Regions from separate parts of the Homo sapiens genome. Here region 1 is linked to region 2. Evidence: fine-mapped expression QTL. A gene starts in region 2. The other region holds a variant in brackets. All regions are shown on one strand. Distances are from middle to middle.

Evidence for each region.
Region 1: its variant is fine-mapped to the expression of LDB2 in whole blood (TOPMed, PIP 0.98).

The regions. Positions count from the first base shown.
Region 1 is chr4:16,867,560-16,875,559 of GRCh38, reverse strand. The region is part of intron 1 of LDB2 (LIM domain binding 2); the gene reads left to right. Among named protein-coding and RNA genes, the nearest start is that of LDB2, 27 kb to the left of the region's middle. RefSeq lists an enhancer at 6,557-7,116. The variant A/G (reference allele first, on the strand shown) is at 3,151.
Region 2 is chr4:16,893,673-16,902,212 of GRCh38, reverse strand. It overlaps LDB2 (LIM domain binding 2), which reads left to right and starts at 3,568. Exons shown (of 8, transcript NM_001290.5): 1 at 3,568-3,859. The coding sequence starts at 3,728. It overlaps LOC107986188 (a long non-coding RNA gene), which reads left to right and starts at 7,093. Exons shown (of 2, transcript XR_001741396.2): 1 at 7,093-7,267; 2 at 8,479-8,540.

The DNA of each region.
Region 1 (8,000 bases), 26 kb after region 2:
TAGTGACTAGACAGATGATTCACTCTAAAATGCAGTTGATTTTTAAAAATAATTTTAAGTAAAATTGATCATAAGTTTTCTTTTTCTTTTTTCTTCTCCATGAGCTTTAATGTTCTTTAGTATTCCTTGGCTTCACTCTGAACTCTTTGATTCAGTTGGTCCGGAGTAGGCCACAGGATCTGCTTTTTATCCAGTAGCATGGTAATCTTTAAAAATTTATTTTTCAATTGATAAATTAATTTTGTATAGCTTAAGACATCAAATGAGGTTATCTGATTACCACCCAGATCAGATTTTGCCAGCCCCAGAAACCCTACCCTGATGATAACCCCTTTCCTTGTATAGTCTTAATTGACTTTTTTGGTATTAATTCTCTTATGTTTCCCCAGACACTATGTTTCCCCAGCTGCTATTGATTCTCAGACTGGCCTGCCTTGCTGTCCAGTGAATACTTGTTGGCTGTTTTTGATTCCCTGATTTTCTGGTCTATCAGATGTTCTCTAGCTTCCTTCCTGCCTAGACCCTGATAACATACATGTCTATGGCTGTAGTGGTTTGTTCCACTGGCTTGTATTTTGGGATGTCAGGTCCCCTTTTCTTTTCAAATATAATTTTTGTTTTATTGAAAAAATTGAAAGAGCTTTTTAAAAACATAATTGGACCAATTTTTGTCAAGTGCCACTCTTGTGCATACATAAACAAGGCTATAAATGAAATACATTGGTTAGGTATTACTAAGACTTACACTCAGGGTCTAATGGTTTAGAATTGTTCTTCAACTCATGGTTGTCCACGATTTTCCACGTAGTATAACCTTTGTGCCACCAAGGATGTTGGTGAGATGGCATTCTTCAAAATAATACTTTTAGAAAACAGACATGATGCAGGTCTCTGAGCAGGCTTTGCATTAGGTAGAGCTTGCCTAATTTTGAATTTGATTTTCAGGAATGTAGCGAATCTTGTTGGATGCGCACTCTCCCTGACTCTTACCCTCAACTATTTGATTGAGAGGAGAAAGAGTGATCTATCTGTCCCTCCTTTTCTTCCAAACCATTCGCACCCATTCTGCAAATTATGATGCTTCTGCTTTGAATATTTGTACATGTACAATGACAATGATGGCTTGACAGAGAGGGTAAATCATAGTCTAATTGTAAAACATGCATTGAGACATCAGATTGATATTGGAAAAAATGTGCATCTTAGAATTAATGAACTTATAGATAAATATAGACACGGGATTTTTCTGTACTTCTTGTCTTGTAACCTTCTTTCTCACTTTAAAATATATTCTATTTATTTATTAAATATAATATAAAACTGAATCTTAAGATCTGCCTATTTTCCAGCCTATGCATTGCCATGATGATCTTATCATCTAATTTTGTTATAAATGTTTTCCACGAGTTTTTGGTTTGGAGTTTGTGTAGGGAGTTGGAGATATTTTTAAATGATGCTATCATTGTTCGTAACAGTCAAAAAGCAGAAGTAACCCCAAATGTCTGTTAAGCGATGACTGGATAAACAAAATGTGATATATCAGTACAATAGGGACCATAAAAGGATGAAATTTGGATCCATTGCTACAGCGTGGACGAGCCTCAAAAACATTATGCTAAATAGAAGAAGCCTTTCACAAAACACCACATATTGTAGATTACGTGGATGGAAACAGTAATTCCTGCAATTGACATGAGAGACCATGTTGGGATCATGAAAACCTGCTGAAACACTGAAACTGGTTGTGGTGATGATTGTTATGACTTGGGCAATTTACTAAAAATTAAAACACATGAATTTTGTGATTTACACATTATACGTCAATAGGATCATGAAAAAAAACTTTGCCACCAATGCTGTTTTCTCAAATACTAAGTTTTAAGACTAAAAATATGCAGAATAATATAAAATATAAAAACAATATTAAGAAATGCCAAAATACTCCTTGTTTTAGAAAACTCTTTAGGAATTGGAATAATTTGGTTTTTCTTTGTTGAATTTTTTAAGGAATAAAGTAGAAGAATAGAAAGCCTAAGGACAAAGAACATTTTTTTTTTTGTCATAAGATCAACTGGTGAATAGAGACCATTAACACCGTCAAGGTTAACCCCAGGCCGAATGCCAGGTTCTCTTTTCCAGGTTCTAGCTCAACCCTGTCCTGTGCTCCAGCACTTTCAGTGATAGGCAGCCCACTCCATTTTGAGGCAATCCATCTTATTGACTTAGGGTTCTAGTTAAAAGAAATGTAAAAAAATTAAAGTCAAGTTTGTCTCTTAGTCACTATCATTCACCAGCCCTTTTCTGAACTTGTACAAAATAAGTTCATTCTCTCTTCTACAGGAGAGACCTCCACTATCCAAATATGAGGAGCTTATCATCCCAAGGCTCCAGGTCTTCTCATTGCTAAATATAGCACCCTGGGCTAAATATTCCCAGGGTGCTCAGCTGTTTCTCAAATGCAGAGGAAATGCCCGATACACCATTCTCCTTCACAGCATCTTTACCACCCTGCCACTTGGCCTTTTTGAACCCCCATTAGATGGTGAGCATTTTCCTTATCTGATTGCTTTCCCCTGTCACTGGGCTGTCAATGGGACTCTTAGAATTGGACTTAGAAGCACGTGGGCTCCCCGACAATGATCTGGACAGCCTTGCTTTGAATATAGTGGATCTTTTGCTTTTCTTGCTTTGCTTGCAGAGCTCAAGGAAACATATTTTCTGATCTTGTCATCTTTTGCTAAAACATACTGAAAGTTAATTAATAGTCATGGCTGTGAAATCTTTTCTCTGGTTTGTTTCTGCCTTATACTGATTTCTAAACTATTTGCAAATATTATTTTTGATTGTAACAGTATGAAAGGGATTGAGAGTCCTGCCTACACTGACTTATAATAAAAGATGCCATGAATTTACCTGAGAATCTGAGAAGGTCTATTGCTCTCATTCTTTAAAAACTTTTTTTTTGTTGTTAAGTATCTGCTTTATGCCAGTCATCCATTCTCAGCACAAGAGAAAAAGAAGCAGTGATAACAACAAAGATTCTTTTAACCAGAATAGAACTTACAATTCAGTTGAAGGAACCATACAATAAACAAGTAAACAAATATATATATGCCATAGCATTAAGTAGTATTTGAAAAGTTTTATTCA[A/G]TTCTGAGGAGCAGTAACTCATGTTATGGATGAATGATTGAAGTTCAGGTATTCATTTGTGGTGAAGAAAAATAAAGATAAAAAATAAAAAATAAAGATAAAAGAATAAAAATAATATGAAGAAAAATACAGTCACAGGATAGAGACATATGATGGACACTACTTTAGATAACGTGGTCAAAGAAGATGTCCCTGAGTAGAGACCCATGCAAAATACAGAAATGAGAGCTCTATGGATAAATGTTTAACAATTGGGTCTTTAAAAAAAAAGAGCGTGTATATACATACATACGCTTATTATAAGTTTTACTAATAGAAAGATATATAGTTTACAGTTTATGGATAATAATAAAATATACAATATTTTTTATTATAAATTCTGTATAGCCAATTAATTCTCCCAAAATGCTTTCATTGATTTCTGCTGAACTCTTATAGTCATAGCCCAAATGTAATTTTCATTGATGAATAAGAGTAGTTCTGATGTGGGCTGGGCGCGGTAGCTCACACCTGTAATCCCAGCACTTTGGGAGGCCGAGGTGGGCGGATCATCTGCGGTCAGGAATTCAAGACCAGCCTAGCCAACATGGCAAAACCCCTTCTCTACTAAAAAATACAAAAATTAGCTGGGCGTGGTGGTGGGCGCCTGTGATCCCAGGTACTTGGGAGGCTGAGGCAGGGGAAATTGCTTGAACCTGGGAGGCGGAGGTTGCAGTGAGCTGAGATCGTGCCACTGCACTCCAGCCTGGGTGACAGAGCGAGAGTCTGTCTCAAAAAAAAAAAAAAAAGAAAGAGTGGTTTTGACATGAATGTTGGCTGATATTTTCTTTTACATTAATGATTAAGAAGACAATGAAACAACAGAGATGAATATTTGAACTTCATTCATTCATCAGTGACATGAGTCACTGCTCTCCTGAATTGGATAATACTTCTCGAATACTGGAAGAATATTTCCTCAAATTTTCTGCCACTCATTATGTTACAGCTTCAGGCATGCAAACTTTCATACTTAATTCATATTATTAACATTTTTGCATCACTTTCTTAAATCTACACAGTCAACAAAATAAAAACTCAAGCCCTGCATTTTAGCATTTGCCAATTTCTGTAGTAAATACTCCCACTATGGCTCATTTGAAGCTACATATATTCAAAGTGTGGGGTTGAGAAAAGACACACACCATTATACAGTATTTCCATCATGCAACAGACATAAATAACCCCAAGGGCACCAATAATAGTAACATGTAGCAAAATAATTAGGAATTTTGGACTAGTTATTACCTTTGCTTTCAGTATGATTTGTTTAATTGGAAGTTAGAGGCTGTCTCACAAAATTTCTGAAAATTTAGCAATAGGAGAGCTGCAACACACTGCTGAGTGCAACATATGGGTCTCACTCATTTGCCAGAGGAAGCAGTGTATGCAGGTCTAAATCAGAGATAGGCTTTTTGGGTTTAAAGAACGCAAGGAGGCAGGGCATGGTGGCTCATGCCTGTAATCCTAGCACTTTGGGAGGCCGAGGTGGGCGGATCACCTGAGGTCAGGAGTTCGAGACCAGCCTGGCCAACATTGTGAAACCCTGTCTCTACTAAAAACTACAAAAACTAGCCAGGTGTGGTGGCGGACACCTGTAATCCCAGCTACTTGGGAGGCTGAGGCAGGAGAATCGCTTGAACTGGGAGGTGGAGGTTGTAGTGAGCAGAGATTGCACCGCTGCACTCCAGCCTGGGTGACAAGAGCGAGACTCCATCTAAAATAAATAAATAAATAAATAAAGAGAATGCAAGGAAGTGAGTGTTGTGGGTATGGAGTGGACACAAGAAGGGAGGGAGGCTGCAGAGATGGTGAGGCCAGATCAGAGAGGGCTTTTATACCTGGTAAAGAGGGATGTTAAGGGGAGTGGGGGTGACCGCAGGTCCCCATATGCTCTGGGTAAGGCCACACATACACACCCCTTCAGCAGGATTGCAGAGCCCCTAATTAGCTTTGTGATTTTTAAGAGCCACTTCCCCTTCTGGCCACCACTTTTCTTATCTGTAAGATACGGAAGTTGGACTAATATGACATTTAAACTTCCTTCCAATTCTAACCATCTCTGGATCTGGATAAGCCTTCGCTCCTTTTTGTGTAATGAATGCAGCGAGTCCTGTTGCCTACTGAATTCGTCCATGTGGCAGGCTCCTGGGCTTTCTCACTATTCCCTCCTATTGATATGGTTATGGTTAGTCTTCCAAACACTGAATCCACGGCATCTTCTGCATCTCCTTCCTTCACCTCTGAATGTCGTGGATCGCCTCTGCAGCTGCCTTGTACAAAACACAATGGCTGCTTCTTCCAATAAAGCATTTGGGGTTGCTGCTGGCTGGCATCCCACCATGGCCACCCACTCACATAGGCTCATGTCACCATCACGCTGAAAGAACAAGTCCCCAAAGACTGAGATACATGGCTAAGAAAATACTGCAAGTAGGAAAACAGGCTCAAGGAACATCCTGAGTGTTGTTTTTGGATCACCACATTGACTTTCTAGATCACTTCCAAATTTGCAACCTAAAACAGCAGGATGTTCCTCAAATACTTAAGATGGAAGGCGACCAAAAATATCACTGGGTAAAGTGAACATCTACGTATTGGTATGACCAGCTCCAAACTCAAAAAATGAAGCACGTGAACTGTACTTTTGTGACGTAAGAAGCTCGTAACTCAATAATAGTCATAATTTTAGAAACACCCATGGTGCAGTGGTTTTGATTTCAGGCCCAAGTACTGAACTCTCTGCGCTTGGATTTCAGGTCGACCATGCCTCAGCCAAGTCATCTAACTGAAGATGAGTCTGTTGCCTCATTTGTAAATGCACGTTGATAGTAGCAGTAACTGCCTTGTATTGGTGTTACTGGAATTAGATGAATTAATACTGTTCCATAGTGTTCATATAACATAGTTGTTTTAGAAGCACCTTCACACCCATGATTTAATTTTCTCTTCCAAACAACCCTCATTTCTGAAGAAAGTTGTCTGATATTATCACCTCCATGTCTGACGGGTCAGCATAGCACCTTTCCCAAAACTTCGAGCATTTCTGAGTTTTTTTTTTTTTTATGACTTTTGCATTTGTGTACTAGAATTCTGCCCTTAGAACTGGCCTGCCTGAGCTTAATTTCTAATTTAAAACATTTTACTACTGTGTGTCTTTGGGCAGTTACTTAACTTCTCTAGGCCCCAGCTTCCTCACCTGATGAATGGGGATAATTAAAATAATAATAATAACAATAATGATGCCCACCTCATAGCATTGTTGAGAATTAACTGAAGGAAACTTTATGAACCACTGAGGCACTTAGCATGGTGTCTGGCAAATGGTAGCACCATTCATCATCATCAACATCATCTACCAGCATCATCATCACCAATAATGTCATCATCTTCATCATAATCTTCATTAAAATCATTCTCATCACCGGCATCATCATCACCAGTAACGTCTTCCTCTTCATTATCATCTTCATCAACATCATCATCATCACCAAAATCATTGTCAACAGCATCATCATCGTTATCACCAACATCATTACCAACACCATGACCACCATTATCGTCATCATCATCCTATGAGAAGAAACAGATCCTAAAAACAGTTAAAAGACTGGGCTAACGAAAGGCACTGAGATAAAGGTCTTTGGCAATTGGTGTCCTATGTGAATAACAAGTGCTTCTGTGTTATACTCTGCATGGTTGCAATCACTTCAGTCTTCATCCTTTGAAAGGAGAAGTGTGGGTGAAAGAGGAGGAGAGACAAATCCATTCACACAATCTGCAACTTTTCCCATCTGCCTGAGTGAATATTCGTTTTGCTTTGCCTTAAGATTCTGCCACCAGACTTTGATTCCAGTGCTGAGTGACTGTCTGGGGTGGCAGAAGGGGTTGGGTGGGGGTGATGACTCTGACCTCTCTGATATTAAGAGTTTATACAGAGAATAGTATTTGCTGTGCATTTTAATCAGCAAAATACACCCCCGTCAGCAGATGTTAATTTGCATTCTGACAATGCTGCCCCTGGAACCTGAGAATGTGATGTTGGAACAATAAAAAAGTTTTTGAGTAATAATACCTTTGTCCTATCAGGAGTCCCCAAATTTAGAGGTCTGGTCCCTGTTCTTGCCTGAGATATTAAAGCACAGAAACTATGGGTAAGCCTGTTATCATTACTCAGGCTCAACTGACGCAAAAGTAAAATAAAATGGGTGATACCTACTCTCTTGAAGATAAAACTAGAATAGATAATCTATTAAGGTCCACTTAAATCACTAAGATAAACGAGTCTAATGTGATTAAAAGAAAGGTGTGGAAAATGCATATGTAACTACTGTAGGGCTTTATAATGACAATCTTTCTGGGCTTTGGTAATTTGAGAGGTCTGGACTTTATCAGGGATAGCAAATGGATTTCATTTTATGTGACAGCTCCAACAGATGCTAGTGGATTGTTTTTGAAGTGGTCAGGTTAGGTTAGGGATAGAATGTTGTCATGGATTGTTGATATCTTCTATGTGCATAGGAGGATATTCATATCCACTTGGATATGAATGCCCGACATTTTTCACCCTTGGACTTCATTGTCTTGAAGTGTCTTGGAGTGCAGCTATTTGATTATAGATCACTTCTTCACCATTGCTCCCAACTACCACCTTGAAATCTTGGTGCTATTATCATCTTTTGCCGATGAATTACTGGTTCTTATTTCTACATTTTAAAGAGCCCTCTTTACCATCTCAAGTTAATGATTCTTTAAGTAGCTATATCTCCTGGAATCCTTCTTTACCTAGAAAACACTACAAACCTGGGCAC
Region 2 (8,540 bases):
TCCCAAAGTGCTGGGATTACAGGCGTGAGCCACCGCACAGAGCTTGCACTATAGTTTAAAATTATGTTCCCAAATATTTACTAGCTCTTCTACACTGTCTTTCCCTTGCCCTCACTAGATGGCAAGGGGCAGGAAGGCAGGTAGCCTGTGTGCTATGTCACCTTGGCCTCCCAATGATCCCTAGAACCTAAGCAGATATCAGGTACCTAATAATCATGTTATTATTATTATTTTTATTATTATTTGAGACAGGGTCTTGCTCTGTTGCCCGGGATGGTGTGCAGTGGTGAGATCTCGGCTCACTGCAACCTCCACTTCCCAGGTTCAAGCGATTCTCCTGCCTCAGCCTCCTGAGTAGCTGGGATTACACGCACCCACTACCATGTCCAGCTAGTTTTTCTTTTCCTTTTTTTTTTTTTTTTTTTTTTTTGGAGACGGAGTCTCGGTCTGTCACCCAGGCTGGAGTGCAATTGCACGATCTCGGCTCAATGCAACCTCCATCTCCCAGGTTCAAGGAGTTCTCCTGCCTCAGCCACCTGAGTAGCTGGTCAGGCACGTGCCACCACACCCGGCTAATTTTTGTATTTTTAGTAGAGACAGGGTTTCACCATGTTGGTCAGGCTGGTCTCAAACTCCTAACCTCGTGATCCGCCCGCCTCGGCCTCCCAAAGTGCTGGGATTACAGGCGTGAGCCACTGCACCCGGCCTATCATGTTATTATTTGAGCGTTTAGATGACAGGGTTCTAATGCATTTGGATGTATTTGCTAATCCTTAGCAACAATCTTATAGACTAGTTTCTATCATTGTCCTCATCTTGCAATGAGATAACTGAGGTGCAGAGAGACTGAGTCCTTTGCTCAGGTTCACGCGACAACTAGATGGTGGAGCTAGGGTTGAAACGTGCTCTGGCCCTGCTGTTGGCTCTGCCTCTATCCACTGTGAATGGAATATTTGTTGAATAAATAAACAAATGAATGTGTAATTTAAAAAGATTTATGGAGGAGACAATTTAATTTAATAGAAGGATAAGTAGCAGTTTGTAGGTAAACTAGGGCCAGAAGTACAAATGTGGCCATGCATAAGAAAGATTGCAAGTTTAGGAAGATCAAGTATAGCAAATAAATAAATGAATGAACACACAAATGAGTAAATGAATGAGTGTGTGTGAGTGTGTGTGTGTATGTGACAGAGGGAGAAAGAGACAGCACAGAAGTGCGGGTCTTACCGAGCCCTGTATGCCATGTTCCTAAGGAACTTGCACGTTTTCCTTCTGGCAGCAGGGAAACACTGAGGGGGAAAACATGGGACATGATCGCTTTCACTTATCTGAAATCCACATTCTCATTTGAATAAGGACAGACCACAAGTTAGAAGAGGACTGTGAATCTGTGGGCAGGGGGACCAGTTCGGAGACTCCTGAAATAACGGGGATGAGAATCAGGGATATGGATCAGCATTATCAAGTTTCAGATAGTTCTGAAATGAGAGTCTTTCACTATTAATGGCAAGAAATATTTCCAATTATAATTGGCAATGGTCTGCAGAAACAAATGAGAGCAAACCAGAACCTTATTCAGAGAGGGATTCCCTTCCTAAATGGATTTTTGAACTGTTTCATTTTTTTTTGTTACTATTGGCCTGCACAGGCCTGCCTAGGTGTTACTTTCATTCTTGCACTGAAATGGTCACATTAACACAAACTCAGGCAGACACTAAACTTTCAGAATGTCTTTAGTTTGAGAGTTTAAACATAAGGAACCATTAGGTTTTGCAGTGGCTGCCATACCAAAACGTAAATCATGCCAAAATTGTTTGAAATCCTGTCTTTAGAAGGTTGTGTGTTTTGACAAACCTTGCAGCAAATTTGGTCCAGCTTTCGGATTTGTAATGAAACCTGAAACCAAGCATTCTCGCCTGCCTTGGGGTCTCCTAGCGCAAGTTCCAAGCAGCCTTAGTGTAATACCTACCCTAATCTCATCCTGGGAAGCGACATTAGTGTGTTAGGCTGCGCTGCTGGAAGTTTGGGGTGGACTCAGCAAATATTTCATGCAATTATGAAGAAGGACTGATCAAGACAGCAATACACTTTTCTGTGTCTGAGTATTTTTAAGAGTGTAAATTGCAGAATTAGCAATACTCTATCCCCTGTTGGCTAGTGACTTGGAGATACCCAAGCCATGATTGGGGCAGAAAGTTAATTAATCTGCTTATTAAAAAGAAGAAATGTCTCATTTGCATGCATTTGCATTCAGGTCTTGAATTCATTATGCTTTTTGGTGGTCCTTTGCTTTATTTCCTTAATACCACTGACCTACCTAGGTGTTAGCTCAATACATTTAAATTTTGTGTGGCTGGGCTTTGTTTAAGTGTCGTATCTCTGGTTATAGTGGGTTCTAGCAGAATTTGATTATTTTATAGATTGTTTAATTCTCTATAGAGATTTTCCCCTTCCATGGGCTGTTGGGATTTCTTATGGTTATCATATACCACAGTTGGGAAAATATTTGTTTACTTGACCAATCTTGGAAAATACAGACTTTGTCTCCATAAGAGTTGGACATGTTATCTGGGGATGATCCATTCAATTATTTGCAATTTCCTTCTCAACCAAATTTTCCGTGGTCATTTTTGTGGCAGTTTTCTCCTTCTTTGCTTTTCCTGTCTTATTGGGAGGTCTGTTTGGGTTTTTTGTTTGTTTGTTTGTTTGTTTTTCCTTCCTGGGAAAAAAGACCATTGCTCTCCTTAAGTGTATTTTATACCTTCCACATTCAGAACGACTGTTTTTACCTGAAAATGCCCAGGCACCTTAAGGGCCTGAATGAAGTCTTTGGAGAAGAGGGAGGTGGCTGGGAAGAGGGGTGAGTGGGGAGAGATGGGAGTGAGATGGAGTGGAGGGCAAAGAATATAACAGCCCTTGGAACAACAGCAAGTAAAGCAAAACTACATAGGGAGATTAGTGCTGAAATAAATCTCTGCATGTGAGTGAATCACCGGTCCCAATTCGGGGCACCACAGTGCCCGTGTTTCTGTATTTTGTAGTAATCAACATTTCTGATACATTACAACAGTGTGGTTGTCAGGGGTGAGCGGCTCATGTAGCGGTTAGACCACCTCTATGCTAACAAGCTTAGCAATCAGGTTGTGAAGGGTCCTGGCTGGAGGAAAAAAATTAAAACCAAACCTTAGACCTCTTGTCAGACTGTGAGGAGAATTATATTTGTGAACTAGTCTACAATGTGGACAGGAAATGACCTCTCCACAAACTGCTTCTTTAAAAACAAGCAGTGGTGCCTAAAGCTATCCAGCTCCTCTCTCTCTCTCTCTCTCTCTCTCTCTCTCTCTCTCTCTCTCTCTCTCTCTCTCTCTCTCTCTCCCCCTCCCTCCCTCCCTCCTCCCTCCCTCCCTCCCTCCCTTCTTCCCTCCCTTCCTCCATACCAACCTCCCTCCCTCTCTGGAGCTCCTGCTCTCTCCCTCTCCCTCCTCTCCCGTGCTCCCTCCCTCCCTCCCTCTTTCCCTCCCTCCTCTCCTCTCCCTCTCCTCTCCTGCTATAGAGGGCTCCGACAGCAGTTCCCAGCCAGCGTGTTCAGCCTGCCTGCCTGCCTGCCTCTGTGTGTGTGTGAGCGTGTGTGCGTGCGTCTACTTTGTACTGGGAAGAACACAGCCCATGTGCTCTGCATGGACGTTACTGATACTCTGTTTAGCTTGATTTTCGAAAAGCAGGCAAGATGTCCAGCACACCACATGACCCCTTCTATTCTTCTCCTTTCGGCCCATTTTATAGGAGGCATACACCATACATGGTACAGCCAGAGTACCGAATCTATGAGATGAACAAGAGACTGCAGTCTCGCACAGAGGTAAGTACTTCAACCTTGGGGATGTGTTTGTGTATTTTTGTTAAGCTATGCATGAGCTTTTCCTAGGGTTTCTGGCTGAATTCTATGGGAAGTGTCCCACTTGATACTACCACGTACGTGGAAATGAGCGCCAGGATGAATCCACGAGTTTGGACGCTGGGTTTCCAGGCACAGCAACTCTTGTAGCAGAGGACAGTTTCTGCCGGAATCTTGAGACAACCCAGCACTTGATTCACATGCCGGGTTTCCAGAAATGTTGCTCTTCCAGAACTCTGGTGTTTTACAGGCTCTGAGTCAGTCCTGTTGGTGTTTCTTGAGATATAATTCCAAGGAATTTTGTGATTGTTTGCATCTGGCTATATATATATATACATATGTGTATATATATATATATATATATATATATACATATGTGTATATATATATATATATATATATATATATATATATATATATATTTTCTTTTTTACAAATCCTAGAGGAAGTCTGCTTTGACCTGTATTTACTTTTCAGAGTCACCAAAATCGAGGTAAAAAGGGGCAGAAGAGTAAACCTGCCTACTTCTCAGAACTAGCCCTGGAGGGACACATGTTTGTATATTTCAGTGTTAAAATCAGAAACCAGTTGCTTGGGGCAAGGGGACTCTAGACTTTCTCCTATTGCTGTCGGCCGTGCCCCCCTATCACTCTACCTTAGGACAGGAGCTGGTTCAGCTTTCAAGTCAGCTCTAGTTTTTGCATATTTGAGATCTTGTGCCTGAGAGAGGGAGACTCAGCCTCCTAGGCAGCCAGCAACTCTGGGAGCAGAGAGAACAGGACTTTCAGAACTTTTTAAATGCAAAACTCCAGACTCGCCTCCTGCAATTTAAATATTTTATGTCAGTTGACTTTTTCTCTGTGCTAGCTCAGCTGGCAGGTCTTGCTGCTGGATTGTCCATCTGCCTGTAAGTTGGGGCTTTGTGTGGAAGTGTTCGGAAAAGGAGTTTGTTATAGGTGCACCAAAGTCACTTTAGGAAGTGGAAATTGCTAGGAATTTAGTCTTCTCTGCAGAGTATAAATACCACAAGATTTATGCCAAAGAGCTTTTAGGGAATAGCTCTGGTGGAATTTTAGATTGAAGATTGACTTTTAACTCTAGGAAGGGACTCCATTAAGTTTGTGCTATGGGATAAAACACAGTTGGCTTGAATTGTCAACAGAGCCATAGAGAATTCATGACGTTTCGTGTATTTAATACAGCTAACAAGATGTGACCTGCTTTCTGATTGGCTAACTGCTGGACAAGGACTTATATGTATTTTAAAAGCTGGGTTGTCTTTAATGACTGCTGTTTTCTTTATATGTTAATACACCATAGACGCTAAATATGACTGCTGGTACTCTTGCTCTTTCTAGAAGCCAGTAGCTTCTATAGAAGTGCAAACTATGTTTTGCTTAGGATAGTGAACTGTTGGCAGTGACTGATATTTGTGCTTGCTGTTTTGTGTATGTTGCTTTGTGTGTGTAACAGTTTGTATATTTCCTTCAGATCTTTGCAACTGTGTGTTGGAATCTTAAATCTCTGCATAAACCATTGGTTGACACAGGCTGCTTTCATAATTAGGAGGATAGAAAATGTCTTATAGTTCAGGCACACATTAATTGCAATACAAATTTGGAAAAAATAGTCTTTTAAAAGTATGATTAGTTATAAAAAAAGAGGCCAGGGACCATTATGGCTCAATTCTTGAACAGCAACAATATTTAAAAATGACCTGTCCACCTTACATTTTAGAAAGTTTTTGAGGAATTGCAGAGATTCTTCTCCATCCTCCTGCAGTTAGGAACACAGGCAGCTTTCTCTGATATCTGCCTGCCCTCCTGCCCATTACTGAGCACTTGGCCAGGTCTGAGCTAGGAGACTTATCTGCAAGATTTCCCTACTCTTGCCCTCATTAAAAAAAACTGCAGGATTCAATATGGTCCCAGGTTTGTTTCCCATTTGAGACAAGACATTTGAAAAGACCTCCTTTCGCAGTATGCTTTGCAAAGATGGTACATTATTTTTTGTGAGAGCTAAACTCAGGAATTCCTAACTTTTGGATTATGGGGTATTACTTTTAAAGATTTAGCTCTGAGTAGAAAAAGACTACTTCATAGCTCAAGAACCAAGAGAAGAAAGCTTGCTATGACAAATCTTAAAGATTTTTTTAAACCTCCCTGCCTGTAACAGTAAAGTGCTATGAACTGTTTTCTGGTGTGTCCTAGAGCTAACCGTTTACATTTTTCCCTCCTTAATTAGATAATTTTTCAAATAATTATTCAAATAATTGCCTCAATACTTCTTTTTTTCTTTGCTAAGCAGTAAATACTGTCATGAACGCAATGCCATACATTTGTTTTTATTTCATATGAAAAGGGGAGAGAATCAAATAATTGCTCCTAAGATATTTAAATATTTACATCAAATATTAAATTTTGATCATGATGTATGTACCTTGAAAAAAACAATTTTCATGTAAAGTTACACTATACCTTTACCAATAATTGTTATTTATGATAAAGCTGCTCTGAGTTCTGGAGAGGGATTGGTTGGGATAAAATACAATGATACTCAGCAAGAGTTATTAGTTTATTCACATGCAAAATCAAATATGCCTTTGAGTGACTACTTTGAGAATTTAGCCAAAGCATACAACCATTTTGGGCAAGACTGACTCACCCATCCCTCTTCCATCTCTCTCTTCCTCTCTCTCTTCTGGTCCCACTCCTATAGTATATAGTATTATTTCATTAAGTCCTAATATCTCTCTCACACACACACACACACAAACACACCCCACTGGGTAATACTCTCAAGTCTTCACCCCTTTTTGAACATGGACCTGGCTAGAAAAACAATATATAGCAAATCAGTATGTGATGAAGAAATTGTAATCAAGTTTCTGGAAATTTCCTAGAAACCTCCTTTTTTATATGGAAAGAAATTAGTAAAGAACCATGATGTTTACCTACTCTCCTTCCATGGCTGATCCCAGGGCATTTTCTCATGGGGATCCATGCATTTCTTCCAATTAAATTAAATCAAAGTTCTTCAGAAGCCGGGAAGTTTGAGTTTAAAGAGGATGGCATTGGGAGTTAATATTATTTCTAACTCTTACAAACTAGTTAGCATGGGTCTTGGTTCCTCATTTGCAAATTACCAACAGTGTCCCTTTAATTGAAAATTCAGATTTTCTTTTTTTTTTTTTTTTTAGCATGAAAAAGTATTATGAAGTAAAGAGTGCAGACATTATTTCTTTGCTCATGGTATTTAGTTCAAAATCACAAAATCACAAAGAGTTCTTCATGTTGGCACTACGCTAATTAAAAAAAATACCATAAACACCAGAAAAGTGTGAGTTCCGTTATGTATTTTTCCTGTTTTGAGGTTTTTTTTTCTTTTATCAATATTACACATCCAATAATAAAATAATTGGGTAATGGTGAAGAAAACTTGAAGGTCCAGTTTGGTTTTAAAGCTAGCACTTAAAGCAAGTAGTTCCTGGACCAAGTAGGTACTCATTAAACATTTGCTGACTAGCCAATCAGTGAATCAGTAGACAAAAGGAGAGAATTTGAAAACCAATGCATTTAAATTAGCACCTTCCCTGAGAAATACAATTCTGAAGTTTTTTGGGGCCTGGTATCTCCTATTGAGCTGAAGCAGCTTTGCGCCTCTGCTTCTCACTCTCCCTAAAGTGTTCATCTCACATCCCCCACATTTATTTTATGTGAGGTCATTTAGATCCATAATCTTTGTGGCAGAGGAAAGCAAGTGACTAAGTACTAACAGGACCTCACCTCTCTGTAAAGGAATAGGCATGCATTAAAAAGCAAACAGCAACAACAACAAAAGTATATTTTAAATGCTGCTAGCTGTTCTGGGAAATAAATTTTTTTTTCAACATTAGAATCTCAGTGGAATTTAATAAAGAAATGTGTGGGTGCTCTTCCCACCCTTTAAAATGAAATTAAGAAAAATTCTGAGGTTAGCATCACTGTTGTTCACTGTAATTCCCAGGCAGCAGAAAGGAGTTTACATTTTCTGTTGTGTATGCTGTCAAAAATTGACCCAATGTCTTCCAAAATTCATGTATTTGAATGGTTTGGCAGTGCCAAATGTATTTTGGAAGAATACAACCGCACAATTATATAGTTTTAACACTGTACACACAATACAGTCAGATAGGATATAAAAATATGTTCTGAAGACTTCAGAATTTGTTCTGTGAAAAGCTTCAATAAAAGCAAAAACAATGTATTTTTTCATTTTTAGGTCTCAGCCCTGAGATGAAAATATAGGTAAAATATATGAGAAACATTACAGTGGACATCATTGTAAGTGAAGGGATTTAACTAATGTTCGATTATTATAAAATTTAAGAAAGTTTATCAAGTAAAGTTCACAAATCTTTGTTAGAGGAGATAACTTTTCTATACCTTGTTTTCTCATTCAAATGACCAAAAATGTCTGCATTTAAGTGAAGATATTTTTAAGTATACATAGTTCTTCATGTTGGCACCATGCTAATTTAAAAAAAAAAATACCATAAACACCAGAAAAGTGTGAGTTCCGTTATGTATTTTTCCTGTTTTGAGGTTTTTTTCTTTTATCAATATTACACATCCTCTTCCAAAAGAGAAAACTGTGATTACAATCG